Linked DNA regions of Homo sapiens. The protein of the gene in region 1 interacts with the protein of each later gene in a pairwise test. Each region holds a gene or a part of one and is shown on either strand. Other genes may lie near its edges.

Region 1 (7,025 bases):
TAATGAGTTTTAGTTTTCTTCTTTCCCCTCATTTTTCTGTGCTTAGTTGTACTTAGAATATGTCCTGGGGTTATACGGTTTGGGACACTATTTCTAGAAAGCATAACCAAATAGAGGATTTTGTCTAATCATTCAGCCATCCTAACGTGATGGCCTTATTACCTTGCTCAGAGCCAGCTTCAGCTTTTGTTGAATCTGGCCAATGAAGCCACGTTATCACGTGATTGGTTTCTAAGAGCTTTGTCAGCCTCCTCCACTTTAACTTGGGCCTCACTTGAACCATACTGTTTCTTTAAAAAGTAGTCGAATTTGAATCTTCGGTGAGGGTCTGATCTCTGTCTCCTTAATGTGATTCCAGGGTATAGTTCAAGAAATTGATTTTGAGAAGTTACATTAAAGGAGAAAATGTTAGGGTTTGGGAAGAGGTTGAGATGCCCTAGGCTTGGGTCTTTATTTATTTCATGTTTTCTCCCAGTAATCTTAGTGCTATTATTTGCTTATCATCCATGGAGTGAGGCTAAAAGAGTTATGTAATTCATATGTAATTTCCAAATACTCCATTTGGAATGGTGAAGTGAAAGGGTGAATAGCATTCTATTTCAGATACATTCTTCTTAAATAGGATAATGAACTTTTGTTTCCATCCTAACAAACTTATTTGATGTCTTCATATATAATTTAGTAGTTCATACAGAAAATTGCATCAAATTTCTCTACTTTCCTTGATTAAATTTATAGCTTGCTTATCTATGATGCTATCAACATTACTTCCTAATAAATGTAAATTAATTATGTACTACTTAATTCCCTTAATGTTATTCAAAACATTAATAAGCTGACTGCAAGAGTAATGTTCTGTATATACATAAATTATGCTGTTCATAAAACTAATTATTACATGTCTAGCATTTTGATGCTCATGAGTTTTTCTTAATTTTATTAGTAAGCCTTGTACAAGTGGCAAATATAAAAGCAATTCTTCCGGAATTTTACAAATAAGAAAAAGTAGAAGCATCTGGCAACTTTAAGAAAGGGCTGAACCAACATGTGAGATGTATGTAAACTGTTCCAAAAGGAATATGTTTACTCCCTTAGGTCATGAGGGTTGTTTGCAGTAAGAAAGCCATTCATGAAGCAGGTCTTTGACACCTGTGTTATCTGGTTTCATAGGTTTCTGACAAGTCAGTAGAATAAGAGCTGGCATTTGTTGAGTGCTTGACTGTGTGCCAATTACTATTCTAAGTCCTTTATGTGTGTTACCGTATACAGCCCTCACCTTACCTTCATGGGGTCAGATATTAGCATCAGCCCCACTTTGCAGACAAAAACTGAGAAGTGAGAAGTTTAACCGCTTGCCCCAGGTCACCCAGCTAGTAAGCAGCAGATCTAAGATTTAAGCACAGGCCAGGGCCATCTGTCTTTAGAGTCTCTGCTTTTAACCTCATGAAACTAAGTTTGAGTTTATCTTTGGTAAAGAATATGATCAGGAACATCAGCATCACTCTCTGAAGAAGCCACAACATTTGAAATTCCTTTTCCTTGAAATAAACAGAGATGGAAGAAAGCCAACCTGCTCAACTGCTTGTTTTATAAATAAGGCAAATGAAGGCCCCCCACCCCTGAGGTGAGTTAGTCACCCATGGTGACACAGCAGTGGGGGCAGGGAGGACCAAGTCTTTTGCTCCTCAGTCCAGAGCACCTTTCACTGCATCAAGCAGCTTCATTTATCCCTGATAGTTTAAGAGGTTAATCCTATCTCAAAGGAGGAGAAAATATGGTAGCTATATCTGGAGTTTGTTCAAATGAAGCAGTTCAATGTGATGGGTTTTAAAAATTACACTTGGTGATTTATGGGTAGATTTCTCAGAGCTTTTTAAAAAAATAATTGATTAATCTTAATTGACAAATAAAAATTGTACATATATTATATAACATGTTTTTGTATATGTATGCATTGTGGAATGGCTAAATCAAGGCAATTAACATATCTATTACCTTATCATATGCTTTTTTGTGTGTGTGGTGAGAACATTTAAAAATCTATTCTCTTAGCAATTTTCAAGTATATAATACATAGTTGTTAACTATAGTCACTATGTTGTACAATAGATCTTGAAATTATTTCCCCTGTTTAACTGAAATTGTGTATCCTTTGACCAAGAATACCTAGCTTTTAAAGTGACATAATAATCAGATTAATGCCAATTTTCCGAAGACGTGTGACAATATCAGAATTCCCAATGGTACATCAGTTCAAATAGCTCAATTTTAAAGAAGCAGTACTTCAGGGCCTATAGATATTTAACAATTAGATGAAGAAATAGTAAAGTGAGTTGTAAGTTTTTGCAGGCATTTCAGCCTCTGGTGTCTCAATCACAAAGTTAAAAAAAAGATTAAGATAGTTATTAGACATTTCCTGTGGACTGATGAGTCTAAATTAAATATATAATATTTAGATTACTTTTGGGTAAAATTTAGATTACTTTTGGGTCAGATTATTTACTTTTGATCATCCTCATGTTTTTGTGCAGAACAACGTTGTTTTTCCATCTCAACTTTAAAAAGCTGGGCCCAGTGATTGATCTGGAACAATCTATGAAAAAAATCACTTAGGCACATGAATCTGTGATATACCAGAATTGAAACTCAAGTTCAGGGCTTGTGTAGGCTTTTTGCAGATCAGTATTAGCCATCTGGATCTCCAGAGAATTTTGAAACTTATTTTGAGTTGTTAATTTCCTTATTTTCTCATTGAAGTCCCCTTTTTTTTTCTGTCCCAATTCAAGATAAGTGTTGTTATAAAATAAATGGACTGTGATTGCAGATTTTACTTGGGAGATTCTGGAGCTCCAGGTATTGTTGGATATCTGAAAGTCCCATTTTCTAACTAAAATCAGTGGAGATCTCTTGGCTATAGGAATTGTCAAATTTGTAGAAGGCAGGAGAGCAGGGTAATTAAAAGCATGGACCCTGGAGCCGAGTGGTGTGGGATTGCTAAGGCAAGTTCTTGCAAGGGCCAGGGAGGTGATCTAGCTGAGTGATGCAGACAGGGTGCAAGGGACAGAGAGGGCATGCCCCATGCAATTGGACAGCCACGAGTTCCATATGATGGTGACCCTGCTGGGGAATGTGGAGGCAGTCTGCTCACCCAATGGCAGGCTCTTCCTCTACTTTTAGCTGCAGAGATGGATTTTACATTAGTTATTTCCAAACATGTTCAGGCCAAACATCAACAGCCTGCTTGCCAGATGTAGCCCGTGAGCCAGTGTGAGATCCTGACACAGATGGTGCTCCATATAGACAAATAAGACCATGCTGTTTTTTTCTGGTGACACCCTCCCTCCCTTTGCAAGTCAGTGAAAGCCTGCCAAGGTGGGGTTTGCTGTGAAACTTTTTCTTTTGGTTGGAAAGTGCATGAAGACTCAACTTTTATTTTGCCACATATTTGAAGATGAAGAAGGAGGAAAGGGATAAAATGATCTTTAATTCTATGGTATATGAACAACTAAAAATTGAAATATGTTCTAAGAATACTAGGAATAGAAAGTAGATATACAGTTCTGACACATTATTAAGTGATTATAAATTGCCAGAAAGAATAGCTGCTGAGTTTCTCAAGTGTCATGCTAGTTTCAGTTCCTTTATTATAGGATTAGCATTTTAAAAGTGTCTCTGAGGAAAAGATGTATTTCTTTTTACCTTGAAAACCTCTTTAACATGGATTGATTTATCATTATGTTATTTTCAAATCATGTCACATTTTTTTTTCAGTAAAATGCTATCTTGTTTTCTTTCATCTACTCATAAACACACTTCATAATTGCAAGTGAATAGAGAAAAGAGAGTAATACATTTGTTAGAAGCATCTTAAAATGAAGTTTAATTAATTACTGACCTATGCTACCTTAATTATTACAGCTTCAGATGTTCTATACAATAGTGGAATTTAATTAAAACCTTCCTAACTAAAGGATGCTTGGTCCTATTTTAGAATTAAGCAGGATTTTGATTTATTAGTACTCTTCTCCTCCCACTCAAAACTTAATGAGGCTGCAAGCAGATCTCCTCGTGAAGGCCTGCACTAACCTCTCAGCTCATCCTGTTCTCCTCCTTCCTTGAATGTTAGAGTCAGTACCATTAGGTTTAGTATGTAGTTACCTTCACAGAGTATAGTCACCCAAATTATACTCTTGTACTTTCCTTGAGGAATCCATGTAATATTTATACTCATATATATGCACCCACTTGTGTTTATCTCAAAAGGAAATATAAAGGAAAGCTTCCCATTTTTTAATTGCTTTTCCTAAATTAACTAGATAGTGTTTCATAAAGTCATAACTGTCTCATGGCATGATCATATTGAACTGAAGAACTCACCACTAATGGGTTTGGAACAGGCTACACACTTGTTGGCATAAAGATGGTTGTAGCAGTCCACGCAGAATGGATAGTCGTCTCTGGACATGAACTGTTCTTCACAGAGATCTTTCCTACAGCCACTACACAGAAAACACTCTTTATGCCATAGCTGGTCACAAAATGTTATCCCACCTGAAGTTATCACCTGCCAAAGACCACAGAAAAGGCAATGACCATGGGAGCCATTACAATTCAGATCATTTCATGATTCTTTTGAGATCCTAGTATCTCTGGGGAGAAAAGGAAGCAAAAAGAAAAAAAAAAGATCATTTCATGTCTTCTATGCCACAACTGGTGCTTTTGGCTACTCTATTTTCACCTTATGTTAGGATGTTCTTTTCCTCAAAAAGTCATTAAAAATTAATAATATGAGAAGCCAAAGGCTATAGGAATTAATTAGAAGTAGAAAGAAATGGAAATTATTGTATATTTTTCTCCTACAATGAAATAGAACAGAGGCAGGGCCATATTGGACTCAGGAAGATGGGGGAGAAAAACCACACAGGTTCTTTTTTCACTTCCTCATACTTCTCTGAATTTTCTTAATTTTGGTTTTTAAAGATCTGCCGTTAGAGCTATTTTCTATACTATGTTCTTATAACTACCTGTCTAACTTTAGGGATGCTTAAAAGAATTCTTCTTTTTCCTGAATGCTTTACACCAGGTCCAAGAATATCCAACAGCAGTAATTCTGAATGGAATTGGTAAGCACCATTATTTGCTAATAACAACTACCATTTCTTAAGTGTTTTTTCAGTCCTTACCACCGTGCTAAGGATGATCTCTTCTGAATATTCTCAACACCTCTACATACTACAGACTATTATCTTTCCCTCTTTTCAGATGAGCAACTAGTGAGGGTTACAGTCATTAAGTTACTTGCCATGGCCATAGTGAGCTAGGATTCAAACCTGCATGGTCTGATTCCACAGCCTGTGTGCATCACCATCAGTGCCATACTGAGTCAAGGTTACCTTACACAGATAAGCAGTTGAAAATCCTTGTTGAATGAATGAATAAATGCCAAAGGAAAAAATAGTTGGAAAGCAATTCCAATATTGTATCTAGCAGTGGGGTGCTGTGGGAATTAGAACTCAATGGAATAAGCCCTGGTTGTACATTGAGCCTTAAGGTGTGATGTGCAGTGTTTTGCCTGAGATGTAATTAGTTCTGCATAAGATAATATTTTCTTTCTAAACCAATTTAATCCATGAATTCTACTTTTTAAAAGGCTGAGAAATCTTTAGTTAGAATCAGATGGATAAATCTTGGGCATTTTTTCTCATGTAACTATTTTTAAGCCACATCACCTTTTGAATTCACAGCTAATGAGCTCTTAGAATTGCTGTAGATACTGGAATGTGTTTTTGTAAGTGTTTTATAATGACTGAAGCAATGGGGTATCTGAGGTGGTTCCTATAACCTTTGTATCAAATTAACTAGGTAGTAAAAACTTAGAGCCTATTTTAAGCCGCCTCGTTGTTTACGAACTCAAAAATGTTATTTGTCTGTTACATAGACTTGTGAAAAAATTATTCTAAAGGTATTTTTAATCTTATAACAAATATCTTAGAAATTAAAGATATTTGATATGAAAGATATTTTCCTAGAGGGAAAAAAGCATACTATTCTGAATAAGTAAATGGGAAGCATAATGTTGTGATGGAAGTAAAGCAATTTAAAATACCTCCTACTGACTTCCAATGCCTTACAGCAGACACAGCAGAATTCATGATTCCTTTGATTTGTTTGGTCTGATGATTAGCAGGCAATGCTTAAAAGATCTGAAACTTGAAAAATGTATTCACAGCAAAATAAAACTTGATATATACACCAAAGACTGTTTAATTAGAGAGAAGAAATTCTGGAACATCAAAAATAGTTTGCTTGTGATTATATTCCTTTTGAAGAGGTAGGAAGGTAAGATAAAGTCTAATATCTAAGCTTGGTTTTCACCACTGATTGATCTCAGGATTTAGAACAAGTTTGTTCTGTGAAAAAGTGGGGGCAATAATGATTTTGCACTCATTATGTGACAGATGAAAAATCGAAGAAGACGTTTAACTCCTTTTGAACCTTGAGGAGTTTGAATTTGAAGCACTTGTAGTTTAAAATCATTTGCTTTCTGGCAGAAAATAAATCTTAGTTTAACAAAATAAAATCTATGGATTTTAAAGCTTAAAAGTTCTAACAGCCTGGTTGTCAAGTAGTTTTTCCTTTTTTTAAGAAAATATTTGGTCTTTGGTTTGGGTTGAAAAAAATTGTTTAGATTGGATCATCTTGATCAAAAACAAATCTAGCTTTTTAGAAAAGGACTTGTGGTTTTAAAAACTAAATAAAAAATAATCTGGCATGTCATAATCTGTCTACTACCCAATATAAATATTTTGTAAATTTTTGATGACTTCAAATCATATCCTAAATATAGTTACAGGCTCCAATAACCTGGGAAACATCAGCACTTGGCCCAGACAGTGCTCAGCATGGATGTACTAAAGAAGTTTCACTCTTGAATTGTTATAGCATTGAAAGAGTCTTCATTATTGTGTCTGATAAATGATTTTAGGATAATTCTCACAAATATCATTACTGTTTTAGTCTGTCTT
Region 2 (6,901 bases), about 29 Mb from region 1:
TTTACCAAACTTCTAAAAAGATGACCCAAATCAAATGGCATTCTACCAACCCAGGGATTAAAAATGAAAGCAAATGGCTTGGTAAATAAATTTTAGTGGTATTATCATTTAGGAAATAGAGCTAGAGATGTTACTTCTTGGGCTCTGATTGTTTTTTAATTAAAAATATTACATTTTAAAAAAATTTTGAGAAAAAAATGGTTTTTTTTTTTTTTTTGAAGGATACGGTATACAGCACAGTTTTAAATAAAACCACTACTGGTATTCATAGAAAGAACAGAGAAAGCATGAACACTGTTACCCTTAAGGGGAAAATAAGCTAAAGAATGGAAATGTTTTTCAACTTCATGATGGATTATGTTTTTAATAGTTTTGCCACAACAAAGCATTTTATTGAAATAGCTGCTCTGTGCCAGATCAGGGCACATACACTATTATTTTAATGAGCTTTAACAAGAACCCACATTCCCAGATGAGCGAATCAGATTGTGTTTGAGCTTTTTTTTGGGGGGTGGCGGGGTGGGTGGGGGGATTCTGGGGAGGGGATAGCTTACTTGTTTTTCAAAAGCAGTTGGCACAAGTCTTCTCAACTCAGATAAACTGTTATTTATCCGATCCCGACGCCTTTTCTCTATAATCTATCCAAAAGAAGCAAACAACAAAAGTTTATGAATTCACAAATGATAAAATTACTCAAATGAAAAAATGTAACTGTTACACAATAGTATAAGTTACATGAAATAAAAAGGGGGAAAAATCACATACCCCTCTCCTTTTCTTTCTTGCCATAATCTGAGATGTTGTTGTTGGAGAATTCAATCTAATCACAGAGCTAGTACTTTGCCTATGAAATAAGAAGAGTATGTCAGGTGCTGCATTAACATAACAATAGTTTCTTCTGGGTACTTGTGGCACCCATTAAATATTCAGAGTGATTGCACAGTTCAAGTCTGTGTTATTTTATTCTTAGTTCTTGTTTCACTCTTAACGGACTTTGCTTTCAGCCCGGCTGTCTCTTTTCAGGTAAAAATTACGCCTTAATTTGTAATCCAGATGCTAACCCATTGGCCAAAATGTCCCACAATTTTTACTTGAAAGTCTCCCAGTGAAATAATTACCGGCAGTTGGGCTGAGAAGTTAGATATTAGCATTTCCTAGTTCCACTCATATATTTTAAAGTCAACTAATCTCAAATAGCTTTCCTTCTCCCTCCTGTCAGGCACACTGAACAAAATAATGCCACTTTTTCAAATCAGGGTTATGTTAAGCACCACTATCAAACAGATGTGCAGTCGTCATACGTCAAACTCTTGTCTCTAGGTGCAAACTTTAAAATAAATAGAAGTTATCTTACTGTTTCAAAACTTCAGTTAGTCATATATTGCAACAGGAAAAAATTGACAAACTTGATGTTTTGCATACTAATCTTCCAAAAATATGCCCTAAATATGCCACTGATAGGAAAATTAAAACTCATTTTATTACTAGGTGAATGTTTTACTTTGAAAATGAAACTGTAGGTGTGTCTCAGACTTTAGGCTAAGCTTAAATCTCCAGAAGCTGCAATGCACCTTGGATTTACTAATGAAAATATATTTTTATATTGAAGGTTCAATCAAAGTATTATTTGGTCACATAATTTTTACAATCCTTTCTAGTTTGTATCTGTTTCTCTTCATAATTCATGGATACTATGCTTCTTTGTGTTCTCAAATTCCCCAGGTTCCTGTTATTTGTTCTCTTTCATTTTAGAAATGCTGCACACACCAGGTTGCTATTACCTCACCTTCTCACTTCTGGATCTTATTTCTGAATTACCTGTCCCCCTCATTTTCACCCCTTCTTTACGGGTTTCACCTTTCACGTGATAGCTTCTGTTTTTCAGACCTCATTTTTAAAGACGGCACAACAACACTTTAATGATCAGATACTTAAACCTTTGCTTTCGTGTAAATATCTTTGCTCTTGCAGATTTTGTGCTTTGCTTTGTATGTATTAGAATAACAATATGAAAGAAAACCAGTTTTCCAAAGGTAGGAAGAATTTCCCTCTTTGAGTGACAGCTGCAGATAAATAATTAAGGTGCTTCTGGGGATGCCAATTAGAAGCAATTATCATTTGACCCGCCTTGGCTCTAAAATGCCTCGGTAATCTCCCTCTGTCACAGGAAAGTGGAGGTCTGGCTTCTGTGATTACGACGCCGATCTCTTCCAGACTTGAGAACAAGCAGTCAAAGAAATGATGCCCTTTCCGATGCTTACATCTGTCACTCACTCTTGCGTTAGCCAAGTCACACACGGTCAACCTGCAAAGTTCAACCTACGTAGCCTTGACATCGCAGGTTGCTTTAATTCCTCCAAAAATCAAGTTGTGATTTTGGTATCTCTAAAAATCAAAAATCAAATTGTTTTTATTTTCTCCTGATCTATTTTGAAAGTGCCCCCAAATACGGTTTCAGTGGCTGGGACATCGCCTGTCGCCCAGACGCTGCCGTTCGCGCGTCCAACTGTGACAGCCAGGACCCTCCCTCGCCAACTCCTGCGCTCTGCCTTTCAGTGGCGTCTCCCATCCTGGCTACTCCACCCCTACGGTGAAAATCCACATCCCTTGCCCCATCCCAACTCACGCTCTGCGAGCGCCCACCACTCAAACTTTCTCAGGCCAAACTTTCCCTCTCTACCTAGATGCTGCGGAGACCAGCCTCGGGATTTCCAGGGAGCCACGCATTCACAAAGCTACCCCAAGCTCCCGAGCTGCGGGCCGCTCCCGCGGAGCCCGCGCTCACCCCGAGTAATTGTTCTCGCTCCCCACGTCGATGGTCTCGTCCATGTCGCTCTCGGAGGTCGTCTCCTCGCAGGGGCGCTTCATCCCGGCGAAGACCGCGCGGGGCACAGCCCGGCCGGAAGCTCGGACGCCGAGCGGGGCGCAGCACCCTGACGCCCGCCTCCTCCCTCCCCGGGCCTGGGCAGGCGCGGCTCCGGCGGCGGCGCGGTCTGCTCCTAGCGGCTCTTTCCCACGCCGCAACTCTGCTCGGCCGCAAGAGCCGGCGCCGGCCACGCCCCCCCCTCGAGCGGGTGGGGCCACCTCACCCGCCCCCGCGCACCGGCCCAGGCCTTCCGCCCGGCACCTCCCCCTCGCTGGTCGGCGTGGCTCGCGATTGGCTGGGCCAGGGGGCGGGGCCGCGCTCGCCAATGCCCGCCGCAAGGCTCCAGCCGAGGCGTGGGAACGCGGCCGCGGACCTGGTACCCCAGAGCAGCGAGCGGGTGGGGAGCAGCCGGGGCGAGAATGAGCGCAATCTTGCTAACCCCTGCGGAGGGAGCGCGCGGGCGCCAACGCGGGCGCGCGGGGGCGGGCCCTGGACCTGGACCTTGGGTTTCGGCCCTCCTCCGCGCCCCGCGGTCTCGCGGGCGAAGTTTCAGTCCTGAGTGTAAAGAATAACCCCAAGCGCGTGGCTAAGTGCGAGCAGGCGCGTGTGACGTCGGGAGGCGCCGCGGCTCCTCGGCCGCCCCACTCGGTGGTCCCCTGTCTGGATCCAAACTGCTGACTGGCTGACCCGAGTGGTCACATTTGCCCTCTGGGGCTTTTGAAAACCTTAAATCAAAATTGCTTTTGAATCTGACAACTCCTGAGGCTACTTTCGCGGCCTCGGGGCTGTTTCATATAAGGACGCGAGTTTTCCTGATCAGGTCTGTCGGCCACGTTACGATTTCCAATTTGCGATCCATCAGTTACTTCCATTGGGTCTTCAGCCCCCAGGGACTGTGGATCCTAGACCCCGCGGAGAAGCCCGTGGACTGGAGCTGTGTCAGCTCTGATGGTAGGAAAGACTAGATCAATGACGCGGGCATTTCAGGACATAATCGTATATTTTCAAGTTCGAGTTTTTCGGGCTTGGATTATCCAGATAATTGCCTCCAGTCTCCTCCAGTCCCCCTGGTGTATGCACTCGCAGCCGCAGAGTTAGAGTCCGGGAGGTGAAGATTGGCGCTTGGAAATTAGATTTGGTTTCTAAAGTATGAATTCGTGTCCAACAGTTCGTGCCTTGGACAACGTGGGTTGTATAAAACTCAAGCTGTGTGTTTAAAACAGGTTTTCTAGCTGCTGGTTCTCTCCAAGTTATGTAGGACTTTTGAACTGGCCACCCCGCTGTGCGTCTGCGAGGGCAGGGACTGAGCGAGACCCAGCCAGGGGCGCCGGGAGACTGGCGGCGGCTGGGTTGGGGTCCAGCCGGAAACCACACGTTGGCAGGGCCGCTTGGTCAGTAGTGGAGAGAGCCTCTGAGAAAGGGCCGTCTATCGATCCCCAGACCCCTCCGTCACGGAGGGATTCATAGCTTCCTGGGGATCGGCCCAGGGCGTCCCTTTGACACTCCGTTCTCTGTCCACACAAGCCCGGCGCGGGGCGGGGAGAAGAGGAAAGGACGCGACTGGGAAAGACGGGACCCTGGCGGGGTTTGGCCCGGGGGAGAGCGGGAAGGAGCCCGGTCGGCGCGGAGGACCTGCGGCCAGCGTGCTAAGCCCTTATTAGAACAGAAACCCCTTTCCCCCCACACTCTCATCTCTTTTGCGCGGTCCCCACCGCCATGCCTTCAATAACCTTGTGAATAGAAACCCGAATCGTTCCATCTTGGCTTCTGAAACTTAACCCCAGGCAAAGCACACACTCGGCGGGGCCAGGTGGGGCTGGATGGGGTCCGCGCCCGACGGCGGGGCCGCGGGGGTCGGTGAACCCCAGCTCCCCTGTCGGCCTCAGGGCGGATGGCTGGGTCGGCGCGGGGTTCGGGGCCTCCGATCGGCTGCACGAGGGCGGGCCAGGACCCAGACCCCGTCCCCGCTCCGGCCCCGCAATCCAGCGGGTGACGAGCCTGACGCGCGCCGGTCGCCTGCCACCTCCCGCCCCGAGCGCCCTGGGCCAGTACCTCCCGGCCGCAGGTGAACGCTCCGCGGCCCGCCAGGCTCAAGCTCGACCGTCACAACTTTCCGTGAGGGCTGCACGTTTTTCTGAATTCAAATGCCTGCAGGTGCAACTCATGTTTGCCACACGGGCAATTAGCGGGCGCGTCCAAACGCCTGAGGCAAAACCTGAGATCATCACTGAAAAAAAAAAATCTAACAGTTCTTTGCCACTATACTAGTGTATTTAATTATGATTGCGAAAAATTGCAGAGGGAAACGATTTGCTGGCAATTAAGTAGCAACTGGTTAAAGTTTTTTTTCAATTTGTCTTTGAAGACAACTGCTGTACTATGTATAAAGAAGAGTATAGCAGGGAAGTTCGAAAGCACACACGGAATTTTAAATCTGTTAAAAATATTTTTTAAGCAAAGAAGGTGGTATTTTAAAAGCATTTAAAACAGCGCCTGGTATATAGTAAGCGCCATAGAAGTCTGTTAAGAATGCATAGGGCAAGAGAGCTCAGGGTTTTGAACGCTATCAAAATAATATGCTTATTTATCTGCAAAACACAATAGCAATTAGGCAGCACGAGATTTCCCCATTAGGTCGTTTATTCTCCTCAGCTGTTTATTCCATTTGCCTGTCCCTTGGTTGAGCGCCTTGTCTGTCTATAACCGAAAGTGCGTTTCGGGTCAGAGAGACAGAAACAGACACAGGAAACCCTTTAAAGCGCCCCCGCCGACTTAAATACGGTAGTGGATTGGAGGTGGGGAGGTGTAGGGGAGGCGTTATGTGGAGAGAAAGAAAAGAGAAAGAATGAGGGAACGGCGGGATTTCAAGCCTCCCCGCCCTTCTGCGACAACCTTTTCAGCGAAAGGGAAGGCTTAGGAAGAAAAGATGTCCGCGCGTAGAGCAAACCGCAGTTCTTTCCTTTCTTTTTGAAGGATTTGTACCATGAGTTAATTACACCAAAAGATACGAGGGACTTTATTAGAAAGGAGATGCCGTTAGGAAAGAAAGGCCAGGACGGCCGATCTAAAGGGAATGGAGAAGGGAAGACTCAGACGCCCTCCCGAAATTGGTGGTCTAGCCTGTGTTTTGTGCTAAATGTTATTTAACTTAATGGCGTGGGAGTGAGATGTTGAATGCAGAGATCTGGAAATACCAGATTTAGTGGTCCTGTTCCTCCTCCCCGACTCTTTTCACACCCATTTAATAAAAAGTTACAGTTTTTACACCCGTATTGATAAATTTGGCGATGTTGGCCAAGTATTATCTCGCCCCGCAGATTTTGAATTTTGTTGCACAAACCGATGAAATGATTGCTTTGCTATAATTGTAAAACTTTTTTGGAACGAACCTGGATTTTTTTTATGCCTCTTCATCTACTTTTTGCTTCATTAGAGCCCTCTGGTTTTCCAAGATCGACTGTCACACTTTGTTATTTGTTGCTTCTCTAAATCCTTTGAGATGCTGCTCGCAGCTACGTAAAAAACGTTGGCCACTCAGGTATTTGATGGGCTTAGAAAGTCACCAAGATGTGACACCATTTAAAAGTTTTAGCTTGGTTTCTCAGTGAAATAAGGGCATCTCTGTTAATTAGAAAACTTTGTGTTAGTCTGAGATGCCTAAGAGCATAGTCCAAATTGAAAATTCCAATATTTTGCCACATCTGAAATATAATTATTTACACAGCCTTCTCTTTCAAAGGGAGGACAAACAGGTTGCCTTGAGAAGAGCTATTCTATTTGCAATTGCTGGGGCAGGTGACAAACACGTGTGTATCTGTGGGCAGCCTTGTTGGGCTGCCTTCCCTGACTACAAGGCTTTTGTGAGCTGGTAACGCCTTAAAATGTGTGAGAATGCTGCGCCCTAGGAGTGGAGGCCAAGGGCAAGATCCTTGTACATTTCAATACCTTTTCCAACATCAGGCTGGCAGCAGGCAGGCCAACCTAGGGTCACTGTGTGACACATATTTGCAAGCCAGTAAAGCAAAACAAAGCTGA

What was found.
Region 2: the proteins of FHL5 (region 1) and HEY2 interact in binary tests that used the Homo sapiens proteins (3 or more experiments, as listed by UniProt).

What each region holds. Positions count from the first base shown.
Region 1 is NC_000006.12:96,608,111-96,615,135, reverse strand, and holds part of FHL5 (four and a half LIM domains protein 5), read right to left. Parts: intron 4,565-7,025; coding exon 4,378-4,564; intron 1-4,377. UniProt on the Homo sapiens protein: May be involved in the regulation of spermatogenesis. Stimulates CREM transcriptional activity in a phosphorylation-independent manner.
Region 2 is NC_000006.12:125,745,744-125,752,644, reverse strand, and holds the start of HEY2 (hairy/enhancer-of-split related with YRPW motif protein 2), read right to left. Parts: upstream 3,014-6,901; 5' UTR 2,869-3,013; coding exon 2,786-2,868; intron 2,776-2,785; exon of another isoform or gene 1,119-2,775; intron 845-1,118; coding exon 766-844; intron 639-765; coding exon 555-638; intron 1-554. UniProt on the Homo sapiens protein: Downstream effector of Notch signaling which may be required for cardiovascular development. Transcriptional repressor which binds preferentially to the canonical E box sequence 5'-CACGTG-3'.